5 linked regions of the Homo sapiens genome follow. The protein of the gene in region 1 purifies or fractionates together with the protein of each later gene. This does not show direct contact. Each region holds a gene or a part of one and is shown in the gene's direction. Other genes may lie near its edges.

Region 1 (3,525 bases):
GCCGAGGCAGGAGAATTGCTTGAACCCGGGAGGCAGAGTTTGCAGTGAGTCAAGCCGAGATTGTGCCACTGCATTGCAGCCTGGGCGACAGAACAAGACTCTGTCTCAAAAAAAAACAAAAAAAAAAACCATAATGTTGCCATGGCTATTTTAGTGGGGGGTTTTTTGTTTGTTTTGTTTTTTTTAGTATTTTTGTTGGGCTCAGTGGCTCACACCTGTAATCCCAACACTTTGGGAGGCCAAGGTGGGCAGAACACTTGAGCTCAGGAGTTCGAGACCAGCCTGGGGAACATGGCAAAACCCCCATCTCTACAAAATACAAAAATTAGCCAGGTGCGGTGGTGTGTGCCTATAGTCCCAGCTACTTCAGAGGCTAAAATGGAAGGATCACTTGAGCCCAGGAGGCTGAGGCTGCAACGAGCCATGAGCATGCCACTGCACTCCAGCCTGGATGACAGAGCAAGATCCTATCTCAAAAAAAAAAAAAAAGGTATTTTCAAATAAGCAGAAAAGTTAATGATTATCACTGTTCTAGTTATCCATTTCTGTGTAACAAATCATCTTAAACTTAGTGGCTTAAAACAAACAAGCCTATGTTTTGCTCAAGCATTCTGTGGGTTAGGTATTTGCAGTTGCCGTGAAGGGAAAAGCTTGTTTCTGTTCTTCAATGTCTGGGGCCTAAGCTAGGAAGTCTCAAAGGCAAAGGATAACTCAACAGCTGGATCTGCAGTTATCTGAAGGTTTGCTCACTCACATGTCACTTGGTACTAGCTGTTGTCTGGGACCTCCATTAGGGTTGTTGGCAGGTGCACTTACACATGGCCTCACTGTGTGGCTACTTGGCCTTCCTTGTGTCATGGTGCCATTCTTCCAAATATGAGCAACCTGGGGAAAGAAAGGCAGAAGCTGTACTGTTATGACCTAGCCTCAGAAGTCACTTTGCATCATTTCTATAGGAGTCACCAGCCCTCTGAATTTCAGGGGAAAGAAACAGATCCTGTCTCTTAATGAAGAAGGTCAAAGATACATTTCATAAGAAGAGCATGTGGGATTAGAGATTGCAGCCATTCTGGAATGCCAAAACCATTAAGCTAGATACATTTTTAGTCTAGTTTTCAAATATTCAACCAAATCTTAATTTGTTACAACCGTAGAAGCCAGGAAGGTTTATTTATAATACAGATGCTCTCCATTTCCTATATGTGCCTGTAAACACTTTTATAAATTGTTCTTATAAATAAGTATATACCATAAGGTTAAACAAATAATAATTGTACCAAGTAAAATTGATACTTAAAAAGAAACTAGAGTAGCGTTCTTAAAGTAAATAGACATTCCTGTTTATCTGCATTATAGTAAGTAGGGTGTGTGTGTGTGTGTGTCTTGTTTTGTTTTTAAAGCAAGTCTGTCAGTAATACACTGCCTGGCAGCAATTCTTGGTTGCCTTTTCTTAGTTCGTTGTAAGTTTTTTGAGTAGCCTTGTATCGAGGTTCTTTTGATGCTAAGCAGCTACTAGCCTACTAAGAATATTTCTATTTCCTTCCCTCTCTTTGTGCCTTAACAGATCCGAGCAGTTGGCAGACTAAAAAGAGAGCGGTCTATGAGTGAAAATGCTGTTCGCCAAAATGGACAGCTGGTCAGAAATGATTCTCTGTGAGTAGAAGCACTAGCATTTTATCTCGTTTGTAAGTTTTCTCAGGATATTTTCTGTACCCATGTTTTTCTAAATAATTACTTCATGTAGTTTTTAAAATTTGTTTTACATCAATTTTATATTTTTGTAATACTTTTTGTAATCTTAAAATCTGGCCATTTTGTTGGTCCTGAGAATTTTTCAGTCACCTTATCCTTTCCTGTGTAGTATGATTTGCTAATTAAGTTGTCATAAGATGGTGAACTGGTCCTTTCCAGCTTTGCTTCTAATGAGCTATGTTAAACAGTGTAGCAAGACAAATAGAATTTTTTTCTTTCCAAAAGTATTTTTTAGCTTTCTCCCTTACGATTCATTGAATTTTTTGGTCCTTTTCATTTTCAGAACATACAAGTATGTTGTTTAAAAGACTATTTGTTTAAACCTTTCTTTTTCATTTGGTTGTATTATCAAATTCTGATCTTAAAGCTACCACAAGATTATTAATGTCAGTGCTTTTTTACTTTTTTATTAAAATTAATGGATTTTTACAAACAAAATGTTCTTCGAAAACTGGTCAGAATTTTAATCAGAAAGTCATTGTCAGTAGTGGCTTTTTAAATATAAATTAATATTTCTTCCTCATTAATGTTTTGGCCAATTTTCGTAAACTCATGAACCACATGTGATGGCAAGTATCATGTAAGCGTCTGTGGAAACTGAAAGAATCAGGAGATGATACATCTCTTCTGAGAGCTAGCAAATCTAAATAGAAGCAAAGCATTTAATTTTATTTACAAAATAACTAGAGGACAATACAGTGATTTATATTACAGCATATTAATCTCTAGTTTGGACCTCTCTAAAGAGTATAGGGGTACAGAAGGGGTTTTGTTGGGGTTAGGGTCATTGATATTAAAGGTAGAGAGAGGTTTTTTTTTTTTCAAATCCTTGCTTTGAAAGAACAAGGAAGTTCTAATTTCTATATAAATTATTTGCTTGCCTTACTGAAATTCCATTCTCTTGTGTTAGGTGAAAGGAGAACTAAAACTGCTCTGATTTCTTATAGAATATTGAAATATCTCCTAAGGTAGTTAAAATTATTCTGAAAGGCTGTGTAGGAAGAGAGCAGGTTAAAATGAATATATATCTCCTTCAGGGAATGCTTATGCAAGATTCAACCATTAGTAATATAAAATTTTTTGATTGTGTTTTCCCTAAAGGTATCTGGTTAGCAGTGATGTCAGCAGGCCCATGAAATCCATTTTTTCTAGACTATTTCCAAATGTATTACACAAACGGTAAAGAGGCTGTATCATTTATGGCTAAGGTGGCTTCTTGATCTGCTTTAGAGTGATTAAACATACACTCAAGAGCTTTAATTATTTTCTTTTTGTAACATTATCCTAAGGCAACAAAGATTTCTAGTAAGCTTTTCCACTTTATAAAGATGTGGCTTACTATTTAGGTTCTTAGCTACTTTGACATTTTATATTAATAAAAACAAGATTATTGTAATATAGCACCACTCTTATTTTTTCTCCCGAAGTATATATTATTTATAGCTGCATTCAGCTGAAGAGAAAGGAAACCCCTTTATTATGTACGAAAACCAGTCCAGTGAAGTATAATTTAGAGTAGATGATATAGATGTTTTTGTATTTACTCAATAACATAAGTTCCTCATAACAGAAAAGATTTACAGTGTTAACTAATACTTGATTTTCTTTTTTTTTCTTTAAGTTGCTTTAATGACATTTTCTAAATTTTTAGTAAAACTGAAAATCTCATTTTTGATAGTAAAAGTAATGAATCTTTATACATTTTCACAGTGAAACACTTAACATTGCTTAACCATATTTTTCATTATGGTTGTAAAGTATATTACCATGTTA
Region 2 (3,525 bases), on another chromosome or scaffold:
CTTCTGTTTGCAGGAGCCACTCTCACTTGGCGTTGTCATCAGTCATTGGTAGGCTTTCTAAGTGCCTATCTTTCTTTTGCTGACAGGAAAGAAAAATTCAATTCTTCTGCAAAAGTTCCAGAAGGATCTGAACACTGGTGTTTTCAACAATCAGGAGAACGAAATCCTCAAGCAGATTGTGAAACATGACAGGGAGATGGTGCAGGCAATCGCTCCCATCAATTATCCTCAAATGACAACCCTGAATTCCACATCGTCTACTACGACCCCGACCTCCCGCATGAGGACACAATCTCCACCGGTGTACACAGCGACCAGCCTGTCTCACAGCAACCTGCACTCCCCCAGTCCCAGCACACAGACCCCCCAGCCATCAGCCATCCTGTCACCCTGCTCCTACACCACCGCGGTCTGCAGCCCTCCTGTACAGAGCCCTCTGGCCGCTCGAACTTTCCACTATGCCTCCCCCACCGCCTCCCAGCTGTCACTCATGCAACAGCAGCCGCAGCAGCAGGTACAGCAGTCCCAGCCGCCGCAGACTCAGCCACAGCAGCCGTCCCCGCAGCCACAGACACCTGGCAGCTCCACGCCGAAAAATGAAGTGCACAAGAGCACGCAGGCGCTTCACAACACCAACCTGACCCGGGAAGTCAGGCCACTCTCCGCCTCGCAGCCCTCGCTGCCCCATGAGGTGTCCACTCTGATTTCCAGACCTCATCCCACTGTGGGCGAGTCCCTGGCCTCCATCCCTCAACCCGTGACGGCGGTCCCCGGAACGGGCCTTCAGGCAGGGGGCAGGAGCACTGTCCCGCAGCGCGTCACCCTCTTCCGACAGATGTCGTCGGGAGCCATCCCCCCGAACCGAGGAGTCCCTCCAGCACCCCCTCCACCAGCAGCTGCTCTTCCAAGAGAATCTTCCTCAGTCTTAAACACAGACCCAGACGCAGAAAAGCCACGATTTGCTTCAAATTTATGATCCCTGCTGATTGTCAAAGCAGAAAGAAATACTCTCATAAACTGAGACTATACTCAGATCTTATTTTATTCTATCTCCTGATAGATCCCTCTAGCCTACTATGAAGAGATATTTTAGACAGCTGTGGCCTACACGTGAAATGTAAAAATATATATACATATACTATAAAATATATATCTAAATTCCCAAGAGAGGGTCAAAAGACCTGTTTAGCATTCAGTGTTATATGTCTTCCTTTCTTTAAATCATTAAAGGATTTAAAATGTCGTTGTAAGATTATTTATTTCTAACCTACTTTTACTTAAGTCCTTTGATATGTATATTTCTCTATTTTATGAAGAGTTCTTGGATTCAATGGAAACAAAACTGATTTTAAAAAGGCAACTCAAATGAACTAGTAAATAGCACCAATCAAAACTTTCTTTCATTAGCTGTGTCTCTGCATCTAAATTGTTAATCATTAATGGTGGAGAATTAAATAACAAATCCCATTTTATAGATCTAAATTGTATTTCGGTGCTTTCAATTTCAAATTAGGTTAAAGAATGCACTACTTGCTTGGCCACCGTAGGAGACTAGCATTGCCACTGTTTGTTAAGAATATCACTAACCTCAAACATGTTCATTGATCTTTCAGAAAGCTGAGGGAAAATTAATATTTGTCTTCATGTGTTATCGGACTTTTACCAAGACTCGATCAATGTTAGTTGTAAATAACTTTTTCAACCCAAATAAAAATAGCTATTCTGTGTTGTATGAAGGTAAAAGTCATTGTTTAAGAATTTAGTTTTATTGCTTCACTTCAAAACTTAGAGTTTTAAATTTTACAAAACCTGATTGTGAGAATTATTCAATTGTAATGCAATGGCTTGAAACCTACAATATTATTTTAACCTGCAATGTTTTATGCAAAATTGTATGCTCGAATCTACAAATTGCTTGTATTACACCAAAAATCGTTACTTTTCTTTCTTCTTGCCATAATCAAGCATCTGAAAATAGTCCCTGCATGCTTCTGGGGAAAAAAAAATAGGTTCAAATCAGTCATTGTAGAGAAAGGCTTACAGTATTTCTCGTTTCTAGAAAAGCATAACAATTCATTAATTGCCTATCTTATAATTCCTATAAGGCTGACTTGGATCTCTGACTTAAGTCTAGAAGTGAGGTTTTCACTTTTATTTAATATTATTGCTATTATTATTTAAATAATTATTTGTAAACCACAGCTTGATTTGGAGTTAAGTGTTGTCTGTGTCTTCACTGTAGCTGGTAATTTACTATGGTATTAATTTAAAGAAATAAATTCAATACAGCATCACGTCTGTTTGGGAACACACATTTTGCTCTATGTATATTGTAACTAAATGGTTAGTAAACTTTAAGGCATGTGGTGACTAACGTAGCCCTTAGATAGGAGGTTTGTCATTTTTAATGTGTTGAAAATAGTACAGACATGGTGACAGAAAGCAGGGGTAAAGTTGAACGTCTATGAGCATTGTCTGTCTGTTTTCTTAACTCTTTACATGATCTGTGAGCACCTGCTTCTTCTCAAAGAACTCCCTTAGTAATCATTTGTGCCTAATGCATCCCACACATGTGGAGTATGACTGGAACACAATTGAAAGATTCCTAACAACTGGCTGCGGTAAATAACCCAAGTTAAGAGCATGACTTAAAGTGGAGGTCTTCAGTATCTCTGGCACTGGCAATACATTTAAGAACATACAGAGATCACACATTATGTGGGACAGGGCCTGCAGATAGACTTGAGGACAGAAAACAAAAACAAAAGCAGAAACTCTAAAGTGGATCCTTGCTGCCTGTTATGCCTTTTGTGGATATAATACCTATAATACCAAAATGAGTTGTTATGTTTAATTTCAAACAAATCCCAACTGGTGTGGAAGTAATTAACTGCTAGTCGATGTAATGTAATCATCAATATGCTGGTGACATATGATGGCATGTCAGGAATACTGTTGTAAGAAAGGGATTGTTCAGTCTACCTAGAACCTATGGGAAAGCTGCAAGACCATTTACATATCAGTACAAAACTCCTTTATTTTATTAAAATATGAGAATTAACTTCAATTTATTAAGATTACGTATTGGTCCTTTAAATTATTAAAGGTTTACATTTGATAGGATTAATGGATTTGGTAGTGAAATATTTTTATATATATAAATTTTTGGTTTTTTATTTTGAGCACTATTGGGAAACATAAGCAAAATTGAAATGCATGGTCTTTCAGTGCAACCATACAATTTTTATTCACTTTGTAATAGAATGGACAAAAAAACTAAGGTTTATATATTAAACTAATAAAAAGGTACAGGGTAAATTATATACATATATGTATGAATGTATATATACTTAGATTAAGAAAAAAAAATGACTCACATTCCTGTAATATAAAGGTCCATTGCTAGTTGAAAAGTGACCTCTTTTCTCTGTACATAGTGAAGCCCGTATGTATGGAGTTTTAATCTGTACAGAAAGAAATGTATTATTCATTGGTCTTTCTGCTGCTGGAAAGATAATAGAATAG
Region 3 (3,500 bases), about 93 Mb from region 1:
ATTTCATTAAAGATGCAAGCATGTAAAGGGTTTTTTAGTTTGTTTTGTTTTTCCACTTTTTTTTTGTGTCTCTCTTCCTACAAATAGGGAAATATGGTCAAGGAATAGGAATGGTTTCTTTTTTCTTTTTCTTTTTTTTTTTTTTTTGAGGGCTGGGACTGTTGTGGGATAATGTGGAAAACCACTGTTGCCAAAGTAGAAATCCCCTGCCCTTGAGGGAAATACACTGTTCTTGAAGTGAAAATGGTAGGGAAAAAAATAGCTGGGCTGTTCAGTGTGTCTGAGAAGGCTTTTAGTTACTGTATGGTGACGTGGCTGGTGTGATTAAAGAAAGGGCTTTCTGCTTTAAAAAGCTTGGAACCTAAAAATGGGCCTCTCTGTGGCTTGGGACTTTTCCAGCCATCCTGTGGTAGAGTCCAGCCTGCCCAGTATCCTCATCAAAGCCAGGCCAAGTTCACAAGCACGCCCAGGCCAGTCAAAAGGTCTGAGGAAGACCTCAGAAATGTTTTAGACAGGAGGAGTAAACTCAGAATAAGGGGCTCATTCTTCTACCCCTCAGTCATTAAGACCCTTTCTTTCATGCAGCACCACTACTTCAAGTCTGGATTGAGGAGGGATTGCACGCACATGTGTGAGGTTGGAGTCTCAATCTCAATGTGATTGTCATTGCCATGTTCAAACGATGAGGCTTAGAATGTCCCTTGTCTTACCTGATGGTCATAGCTCTCTATGACCCTCTGCTTCTTCCCAGCTGTGTCCTGGTGCTCTTTTGCTGTCAGAAGTGCTTGAGCAGACCTCTTGCTGCTGTGGACACCCTAAAAAGCTCCGCACCCCCTCAAGTCTACTAAGGCATGGTGGCTCTCTTCTAGGACAAGACTGTTGGGTGGTGGCTGAGCATTCGCCTGTCTTTGAGCGTCTGCATTTGCTCTCCCCCACCCCTTCCTCTCTTCCTTCTTTGTTTGTAAATAAAGTTGGTTAGAACACAGCCATGCGCATTCCATTCTGTTTCAGAGAAGTTAGCCTTCCCTCCTTCACAGGAGGGCCCAAACCCACTGTTACTCTCATTCTTTATAACACTCAAGCTACTTAGCATCAAGTATTTGTTGTATGAGCTGATCATGTGTCTCTCCCACTTACAATGTAAGTTCTGAAAGAGGAGGGACTTTGGTCTGTTTTGTTCCCCACTGTGCCCCAGAGCTTAGTACCTTTTGCCTGGCACATAGTAAGAGCCATGAATGAATAGCAGCAGCCCCTGGTGAAACTCTGTGATGCTCTGTGTGGTACAGTTACAGCTGGGACTCATTTGAAAATCACAGTAATGTTTTTAGTGAAGCAGGAAATGAGAAGAAATTCCCTATGGGCTCTGCATCTAAGAGGCTCCAAGTAGCTCTTATGCATGATCCTAACATGGGAACCATTGTTTATTCTGGAAGGTAGTTAGTGTTTCTGTTGGGCGGATGGAACACATTGTGTTCCTTACTGATGTGTGACCTTGAACAAGTCACCGATCATCTTAAAGCTTACTTCCTCTTTTGTAAAACAGACAATATAATATCATTTAACCTCATAGGCTTGTTGTAAGGATTACAAATGACAAAGTTTATTAAGGCACTTAGATTAATTTAGATTATTCTTGTTCTTTTTTTTTGGTGTTGTTTTTGTTTTATTTTGTTTTGTTTTGTTTTGGAGATAGAGTCTTGCTCTGTCACCAAGGCTGAAGTACAGTAGTGTGATCAGGCTCTAGCAACCTCCCCCTCCCAGACTCAAGCCTTATGCCCACCTCAGCCTCCAGAGTAGCTGGGACTATAGGCATGTGCCACCACACTAGGCTAATTTAAAACAAAAGTTTTTTTCTGAAGATGGAGTCTCACTGTATTGCCCAGGCTGGTCTCAAACTCCTGGCCTCAAGTGATCCTCCCATCTCAGCCTCCAGAGTAGCTGGGACTATAGGCATGTGCCACCACACTAGGCTAATTTAAAACAAAAGTTTTTTTTCTAAAGATGGAATCTCACTGTATTGCCCAGGCTGGTCTCAAACTCCTGGCCTCAAGCGATCCTCCCACCTCAGCCTTCCAAAGTGCTGGGATTACAGGTGTGAGCCACTGTGCCCAACCAGCGCTTAATTAAAATGCATTCATTCCTATTAGTAATCACTAACTCTGGCTTGAATGTACCTGCATCTGTTACCACCCAGGCATAACTGTTCATGTAGATCTGACGTTGTTCATTTGTTTGAACACAGGGCTTCAGCAACCTGTTTATGTAGCTATTCTTAGCATTTACAGGGGTAGAGCCTGACCAGACATGAGAGGAAATATGCTCTGTTTCAGAAGAGGTCAGGCTTGCCACCACCCTACTAAACTAGGAGATGTGGTTGTCATTGCCCTGTTCAAAAGATACAGTTTTCTTCTGTGGGCTGTAAGATAAGCTGGGTATGGCCAAGTTCACCTTTGGATCTAACCAGGGCATTGGTGGTGGTGGTGTTTCTGGCATGGTACAGCAAGCAGGAAGCAGTAGTGTGCGAGGCCACCCTTTCCAAGAAGGTGCGGGCCCTGGCATCAGGTGGGGGACAATGGATAACAATAGGCTTGACCTCTCAGCACTTCTCTGATTCCTTATCTTTTCTATAAAAAAGGCTAAAATTCTTGGTTCCTATTCCCTGCAGCTGGCTACATGTTAGGAAAATTCAAAGAATAGCTTAAGAACTCTATTCAGGTTCCATAAAGCACTTAATATCATCAACAGGCCTAGAAAGGATCTTTTACCAGATTTCGATGCATGGAAACTTCCTCAATAGTAATGACACCCTCTGCAACACCTTAGGAAAAACATTCGCTTCTGGGCACAAGTTCTGGTGAAAGCTTAAATCTGTAGTTCTAACCCAGAAGAGAAGGCTAGTCAGTGTTGCTGAGCATCTGAGCTGCTCTTTGACTTTGGTGATAATTGTTTTATGCCCTTTTCTGTCCAGAATCTGCTGACTGGGACAACTGCAGGGTGGAAGCCACCTTTTTGTCAGTTCAGGAGCAGGCAAATTATCTAACATGTGGCTTTAAAATTCAAATGAGATAAGGCAGTAAGGGTCACTAAGATGTTTCTGGTGGGTATTGCCTTACATGACTTTAGGGTACTGGTGGCACTATCTTTGATTCTTAAGAGTACAATTCATTGTACTATGTATATATATTTAAAATAACACTTAATGCCTTTGTGACTTTGAAAATAATGTGAATTTTTATGTAAAATTAAAGCATATGAGGAAGTATGGAGAAGAATAAAGAATAAATACACTCTTTACCTCTAAATGCAGATCTTACCAGATAAAATTGATTTCCCTTTAGTTCTTTAAAAAAAAAAAGTGATACGTACATGTGTGTATATGTGTATATATGTACATGAATATATGCTTTTTTAAAAATTAAGATACTGCATTTCCTTATGCCATTAGGTTTTTTTTTTTTTTTTTTTTTTGAGATGGAGTTTCACTCTTGTTGCCCAGGCTG
Region 4 (3,525 bases), on another chromosome or scaffold:
CAGTGTAAGGCTTGTTGTTCTTGCCCATAAGGGACCTGGGACTTAATCAGGGAGACATGGCTTACACACATGCTTGGATGTGTGATATATAAAATTAATTGGTATGAAGTAACATGCTGTGGGAGTTAGAAGAAGATCAGTGTGGGGTAGAATAAGGTAAGGAGGTTTTGAAATCATTCTATCCGAGGTAAGATTTAAACAGGTATTTTACCTCGTCTCCTTTCAGACTACTTGGAAGATGAACTGTTCTCATCAGCAACATGCTATTATGTCATCTTTTAGGACTAGGTAATGCTCCAGTGACTTAATACCAATGACATTTTCATGTTGTCCACAAATTCTGAGTAGAAACCTTTTCAAGCCTGTAGCCTCTCTGAGAGCTGACTGTTATTAACTGAATGAGAGGATGTCAGCAAACAGGTAAGACACATGCTGGGTAAATAAAATTATCATATAAATGTAAGATATAATTATTACTATTGTATGAAGCAGAGAGAAGACTGGCTGGATTGGAGGAGATATTTTTGTGACTAATGAGAAATAAACTTGGTCTTTGGAGACTGGGTTGTGGAGGCCCATGAGAGCTAATCAGGAGTTTTATTTGAGTCTGTTAAGACATTTCCTGTATTACCTAATGTTACTCAGATTACCAAGAATTAGTAGCATTGTTGCATAAATGCCTGACACTAATGATAAAGATTAATATTTATTGAGTAGTATGTCAGTTATTCTTTACCAGTATTAAATAGGTATTGTTGTCCCCATTATATAAGTGAGGATATCAGGCCTTAGGGAGATAAAATAACTTTTACAAGGTTTTAAAGATATACTATAATTTCATATAGAAAATGATAGGGCCAGGTGCGGTGGCTCACACCTGTAATCCCAGCACTTTGGGAGGCTGAGGCGGGTGGATCACAAGGTCAGGAGATCGAGACCATCCTGGCTAACATGGTGAAACCCCGTCTCTACTAAAAAAATACAAAAAATTAGCCGGGTGTGGTGGCGGGCGCCTGTAGTCCCAGCTACTTGGGACGCTGAGGCAGGAGAATGGTGTGAACCCAGGAGGTGGAGCTTGCAGTGAGCCGAGATTGAGCCACTGCACTCCAGCCTGGGCGACAGAGCAAGACTTCGTCTCAAAAAAAAAAAAAAAAAGAAAATGATAGAGAGTACCTTGTGGCTAGAGTGGGATAGGAATTGGAGTGCAACTTTTTGAAAACATTTTGAAGCGATGACATTTGAACTAAGTACTAAAGGATGAAAAGGAACAGGTTGTAGGGAAAGTACTCCAAGCTAGGGAATAGCAATTGTATAGACCCTGAGGTCAGAAAGAATTTAATGTGTTTTCCCTAGCATGGGTTTAGCATGGTGAGCAAGAGGGAAGTGGTATGAGATTAGGACAAAGAGAAATGGGTAGAAGTCAGATTATGTAGGGCTTGTGGATTGCATGTTGTAAAGGTTGGTACTGAGTTTGCATGTTAGATTCTAAGTGCAGTGTGAAACTGTTGAAAGGTTTTTAAGCAGGAGAATGTGATATGCTTGTGTGTGTGTGTGTGTGTGTGTGTGTGTGTGTGTGTGTGTGTGGTAAAAAAATACATAATCTAAAATTTATCATTTTAACATTTAAGTGTACAGTTCAGTGACATTAAGTACGTTCACATCATCATGCAACCATCACTACCATCCATCTCCAGAGCTTCTTCATCATCTCCATCTGAAACTCTGTACCCATTAAATCATAACTTTCCATTCTCTTCTTCCATGTGGTAGCATGTATCAGAACATCTTACTTCCTTAGGGCTGAATAATATTCCATTGTATGTAGATACCACATTTTATTTATCTGTTTATCTGTTGATGGACACTTGGGTTGTTTCCACCTTTTGGCTGTTATGAATAATGCTGCAATGAACACTGGCATACACATATCCCTTTGGGTTTCTGCTTTCATTTCTTTTGTGTATATATCCAGAAGTTCAATTACAGATTGTATGATAATCCTATGTTTAAGTTTTTGAGGAAATGCCATACTGTCTTCCCCAGCAGCCACACCATTTTATGTGCCCACCAGCAGAGCAGAAGAGTTTCGATTTGTTCACATCCTTGCCAACACTTGTTTTCTGTTTTTTTTTGTGTGTGTGTGTGTGTGATAACTATCCTAATGGGTATGAAGTGGTATTTCATAGTGGTTTTATTTATTTATTTATTTATGTTTTTGAGACCGAGTCTTGCTCTGTCGCCCAGGCTGGAGTGCAGTCGCGTGATCTCTGCTTACTGCAAGCTCCGCCTCCTGGGTTCACGCCATTCTCCTGCCTCAGCCTCCCAAGTAGCTGGGACTACAGGTGCCCGCCACCACACCCAGCTAATTTTTTGTATTTTTAGTAGAGACGGGGTTTCATCATGTTAGCCAGGATGGTCTCGATCTCCTGACCTCGTGATCTGCCTGCCTTGGCCTCCCAAAGTGCTGGGATTACAGGTGTGAGCCACTGTGCCTGGCCTCATAGTGGTTTTAATATACATTTCCCTATGATTAATGAGGTTGAGCATTTTTTTTTATTGGCAAAATGTCTTCGAATTATGAGTTTTGTTTTTGGAAGAATATTTGACTGCTCTGAGAAGAATGGATTGAAGTAGGGTTGGAGAGGAGTCTGGCAAACCACTTGACAAGCAGCTATAGGAATCCACTTGGAGGTGGTGATAGTTGGATCACACTCTGTTGCCCTTCTTCAGGTCTAGTACTTTACTGATACTTCATTTTAAGTGTGTCCCCTCTCCTTAGTTATTCTACTTTTGTGCCATATAGACTAATTACTTTTGTGACTTCTGCAGTTGGTTGAGCACTTTCTCCTGGGAATCTTAAAAATATTCAAGGTTTATCTTAGGCCAAAATAACAATGATGATGATTATTTTATTTTTTGCCTTTAAAACTCCAGACCAGGCACAGTGGCTCACACCTGCCATCCCTTTGGAAAGGCTGAGGCAGGAGGATCACGTGAGGCCAGGTGATCACGTGATGAGGCAGGAGGATCACGTGAGACCAGACTGGGCAACGTAATGAGACCCCTCTAAAAAAAAAAAAGTACAAAAATTAGCTAGGCCTGGTGGTGTGCACTTGTAGTTCCAGGCTATTCAGAAAGCTAAGGTGGGAGGATTGCTTGAGCCCGGAAGGCCGAGGCTGCAGTGAGCTGAGATCGTGCTACTGTACTGCAAGCCGGGGCAACAGAGCGAGACCCTGTCTCAAAAGCAAAAAACAAAAAACAACTCTCTAGTTGTTAATTTGGTGAATTTCAAGTTTTGTGTTTTTTTTAAGTGATTAATAGAAAATTAATATAGTGGCCTAGAAATTAAGATTTAAAAGTTTTTAGATTGTAGACTGTTTTGATGGAAGAAGTACTCCAATAAGAACTATGCCAGATGGTAGCCATAAGCCCTTGGCCTCAATGTTGGCCTATCAGGTTTCTGCTTAGTGACTCTGTCCTTATCTAAGTGGCCTTCTGGGGGCTGGATCAGTACTTGAAACATAA
Region 5 (3,525 bases), on another chromosome or scaffold:
GTCTTTGTGTCTTCATTTATTAAAATGATAATCATTAAGGTTTTTCTAGTCCTGAGCCTTCTGTTATTCTGTCTGGAGATAAGATATTTAACTGTCTTTTTCATATTTTAGGACCCAGATGATGTGGTACCAGTTGGCCAAAGAAGAGCCTGGTGTTGGTGCATGTGCTTTGGACTAGCATTTATGCTTGCAGGTGTTATTCTAGGAGGAGCATACTTGTACAAATATTTTGCACTTCAAGTAAGTGGAAAAATTATTTTGTGTCTCTGATTTTTTTTTTTTTTTGCCTCTCCCGATGTGCATTACAAAATTGTTTACAACTTGCGCTAAGCTTGTACTTTTTATCTGTGACCTTCAGCCAGAGTGGTAGTTCTATTTTAAAGCTGTGTTTAAACATCTCTCCATGATATGTTTGCTGAGCCCATCACACACAGTCACTAAAAGCAGAGTAACTTGAAATGTTGGTGACTAAGGGATTTATTTAGGTCATTGGGTGATTTTACTAACCTTTATTTTCCTACTATAATTAAGGGTTGAGAGGAATAGTATTATCAATTGCCAGTTGAATAAATACATCAGCCACAAATGTTTTCATGTTGATAGGCCATAACTTGATAGTCAGCTTGGACTCCCCTATGGTCCTGCTGTACCCTTGGGCCCAGAATACAGTAAGACCATGTCTCTGCTTCTTTTCCAGTCATGGTTTCACTAAAGAACTGGGTGACTTCAGCAGTGATATTGAAATAACATAGGATGAAAGTTGTTTATAACTTTGAGTGTTTAATAGTAATCCCAGTGGGTTAAGACAAAGGTCTTCCTTGTGATTGATTATAATTTACAATCTATTTTGTAATATATTTCTCTTGGCAATAATACACAATTTTTTTTTTTAGGAGTTTTGAAGGGGAAATTACTTTCAAGGTTTTATGACTACTTCAGCTGTTTCAAAATTTGGAGAAACAGTTGACAACTAGACTTATTAAAATAATTTAACTAATTTTGAAACATTCTCAATTTCATGCTCATTTTCTGTGTTGTTCAAGATAATCAATCACATGTTGATAGACATTACCAAAATACTAGTCATCTTTTTAAATACAGTTTTATTTACAAGAAATACATATAGTATAGAAAAAATCATCGCAATTCCATTTTCCAGAGATAACATTTGGTGCATTAACTTTTTTTTTTTTCTTGAGACAGAGTTTCTCTCTTGTTGCCCAGACTGGAGTCCAATGGCGCGATCTCGGCTCACTGCACCCTCTGTCTCCCGGGTTCAGGCAATTCTCCTGCCTCAGCCTCCCAAGTAGCTGAGATTACAGGCACCTGCCACCACTCCTGGCTAATTTTTGTACTTTTAGTAGAGACAGGGTTTCATCATGTTGGCCAGGCTGGTCTCAAACTCCTGACCTCAGGCGATCCACCCACCTTGGCCTCCCAAAGTGCTAGGATTACAGGCGTGACACACCATGCCTGGCCCTGTGCATTCACATTTTGTATACCCTTAGTCTTTATTGTGTGTGTAGTGTGTGTAGTGTGTGTGTGTGTGTGTGTGTGTGCGCGCGCGTGTGCGTGCGCGCACGTGTACATGTACTGTGTGTTTGGCTTTTTTTGAGATGGGGTCTCACTCTGTCATCCAGGCTGGAGTGCGGTGGTGCAATCACAGCTCACTGTAGCCTCAACCTCTTGGGCTCAGGCAATCCTCCCGCCTCAACCTCCCCAGGAGTAGCTAGGACTACAGGTGCGTGGCACCATACCCAGCTAATTTTTTTATTTTTTGTGGAGACAGGGTCTCACCATGTTGCCCAGGCTGGTCTTGAACTCCTGGGCTCAAGCAGTCCATCTGTCTCAGGCCTCCTCCCCACAAAGTATTAGGATTACAGGCATGAGTTACTGCACCCGACCTTATGTACTGTTTTTTCTTTTTGTAAAAGTGAGACAGTAGCATAAAGATTTGCTGTAATCTAATATTTTCCACTGAATTGTGATATAAAGGGAAAAGTAGAACTACGTATATGCATATAGAAATTTCAGAAAAATTATCCCTTTTTTGGCTAATAAGAAAAAAGTCATTTAATTAGTAGACCATATCAAAACTTTTTAATATATTCTTTCAGAAAAACTTGACTAGTTTTGGAATGTATTCTTCTATAAAAACTGCTTACAGGTAGAGTAGGTCTGTTGTTTCTTTATATTTATTTGTTACTGGATAGCTAATTATTTTTATGTTCTATTTTCACCTACCAGGAAAAGTAAAGGGAAAACCAGCTGCCTTTCTTCTGAAGCTGTTCTTTTACAGTGCTTCAAAACCTGATCTTAAAGAATATGTTAACTCTGTAATTAAACTGTCTGACTTGTCATCTAAAAGCAAGAGTTTGCAAGCAAAATGCTATTTAGATAGAGGTGGCAGCTTAAGTAATGCTTATTTAAAAACCTGTCTCATGCTGAATTGCTGAAATGAGTCTTTAAACTCTCTATAGCCAGATGACGTGTACTACTGTGGAATAAAGTACATCAAAGATGATGTCATCTTAAATGAGCCCTCTGCAGATGCCCCAGCTGCTCTCTACCAGACAATTGAAGAAAATATTAAAATCTTTGAAGAAGAAGAAGTTGAATTTATCAGTGTGCCTGTCCCAGAGTTTGCAGATAGTGATCCTGCCAACATTGTTCATGACTTTAACAAGGTGAGCCAAGTGTCCAGAATTGTAGAAAGAATGCAGGTTCTGTAGTTTATGCTTTTTGTAGTTTTAATTTCAATATTTGCTAATTTATTATATTTAGAGTTTAGTTTAATAAACTGTCAGCATTTGGTGGGCTCTGCTATGTCTGAAGCAGACCCTGCTGATGCAGCCTTCTCATATCTTATCTCTCCTTCCCCTTGCCTTACCTACTCTTAAAGCCCACCTCATGACTGTTCCTCCTTTGCTGGCAAACTAATATTTTTTATATGTTCCCACATTTTCTTAGATAAGAGGTAATTTATGTTCCTGTTTCTTGGTAGCATTTTCAAAATCAATAATTTTGTTAATCTGTTTTTAAGTTCTCATTCTATATTTTTCCCCAGCTTTTGAGCATTTTTATGTAATGCAGAAAAGTTGAATACCCAAAATCCTCCACTTTGTTCCAAATATTGCCATATTTGCTTCATCTCTTTTTCTGTCATTTGACATAAGTACTTATGCTATTATCTCTCAAGAATGAGTTGTCCTCCTACGTAACCACATAATTATCACATCTAAGAAAATTAACATGATCTTATAGGACAGTAGTCCCCCCTTATCCGTGGGGGATACATGCCAAGACCCCCAGTGGATGTCTGAAACTGCATATAGTACCAAACCCTGTATATACTATGTTTTTTCCTGTTAGTGTACATATATACATATGTTAAAATTTAATTTACAAATTAGCCACAGTAATAGATTAACGACAATAATAATAAAACAGTTATAACAAAATACTATAATAAAAGTTATGTGAAGGTGGTTTCTCAAAATATTTTATTATGCTGTACTCACCTAG

The links.
Region 2: the proteins of MFF (region 1) and HCN1 purify together in Homo sapiens (co-immunoprecipitation; one large-scale study listed by IntAct). This does not show direct contact.
Region 3: the proteins of MFF (region 1) and MGAT5 purify together in Homo sapiens (affinity purification with mass spectrometry; 2 studies listed by BioGRID and IntAct, with this or other methods). This does not show direct contact.
Region 4: the proteins of MFF (region 1) and CCDC126 purify together in Homo sapiens (affinity purification with mass spectrometry; 2 studies listed by BioGRID and IntAct, with this or other methods). This does not show direct contact.
Region 5: the proteins of MFF (region 1) and ITM2B purify together in Homo sapiens (co-immunoprecipitation; one large-scale study listed by IntAct). This does not show direct contact.

The regions. Positions count from the first base shown.
Region 1 is NC_000002.12:227,338,728-227,342,252, forward strand, and holds part of MFF (mitochondrial fission factor), read left to right. Parts: intron 1-1,564; coding exon 1,565-1,653; intron 1,654-3,525. UniProt on the Homo sapiens protein: Plays a role in mitochondrial and peroxisomal fission. Promotes the recruitment and association of the fission mediator dynamin-related protein 1 (DNM1L) to the mitochondrial surface.
Region 2 is NC_000005.10:45,259,372-45,262,896, reverse strand, and holds part of HCN1 (potassium/sodium hyperpolarization-activated cyclic nucleotide-gated channel 1), read left to right. Parts: intron 1-86; coding exon 87-976; 3' UTR 977-3,525. UniProt on the Homo sapiens protein: Hyperpolarization-activated ion channel that are permeable to sodium and potassium ions. Displays lower selectivity for K(+) over Na(+) ions.
Region 3 is NC_000002.12:134,260,572-134,264,071, forward strand, and holds part of MGAT5 (alpha-1,6-mannosylglycoprotein 6-beta-N-acetylglucosaminyltransferase A), read left to right. Parts: intron 1-3,500. UniProt on the Homo sapiens protein: Catalyzes the addition of N-acetylglucosamine (GlcNAc) in beta 1-6 linkage to the alpha-linked mannose of biantennary N-linked oligosaccharides.
Region 4 is NC_000007.14:23,603,860-23,607,384, forward strand, and holds part of CCDC126 (coiled-coil domain-containing protein 126 precursor), read left to right. Parts: intron 1-226; exon of another isoform or gene 227-420; intron 421-3,525.
Region 5 is NC_000013.11:48,253,697-48,257,221, forward strand, and holds part of ITM2B (integral membrane protein 2B), read left to right. Parts: intron 1-111; coding exon 112-240; intron 241-2,480; coding exon 2,481-2,687; intron 2,688-3,525. UniProt on the Homo sapiens protein: Plays a regulatory role in the processing of the amyloid-beta A4 precursor protein (APP) and acts as an inhibitor of the amyloid-beta peptide aggregation and fibrils deposition. Plays a role in the induction of neurite outgrowth.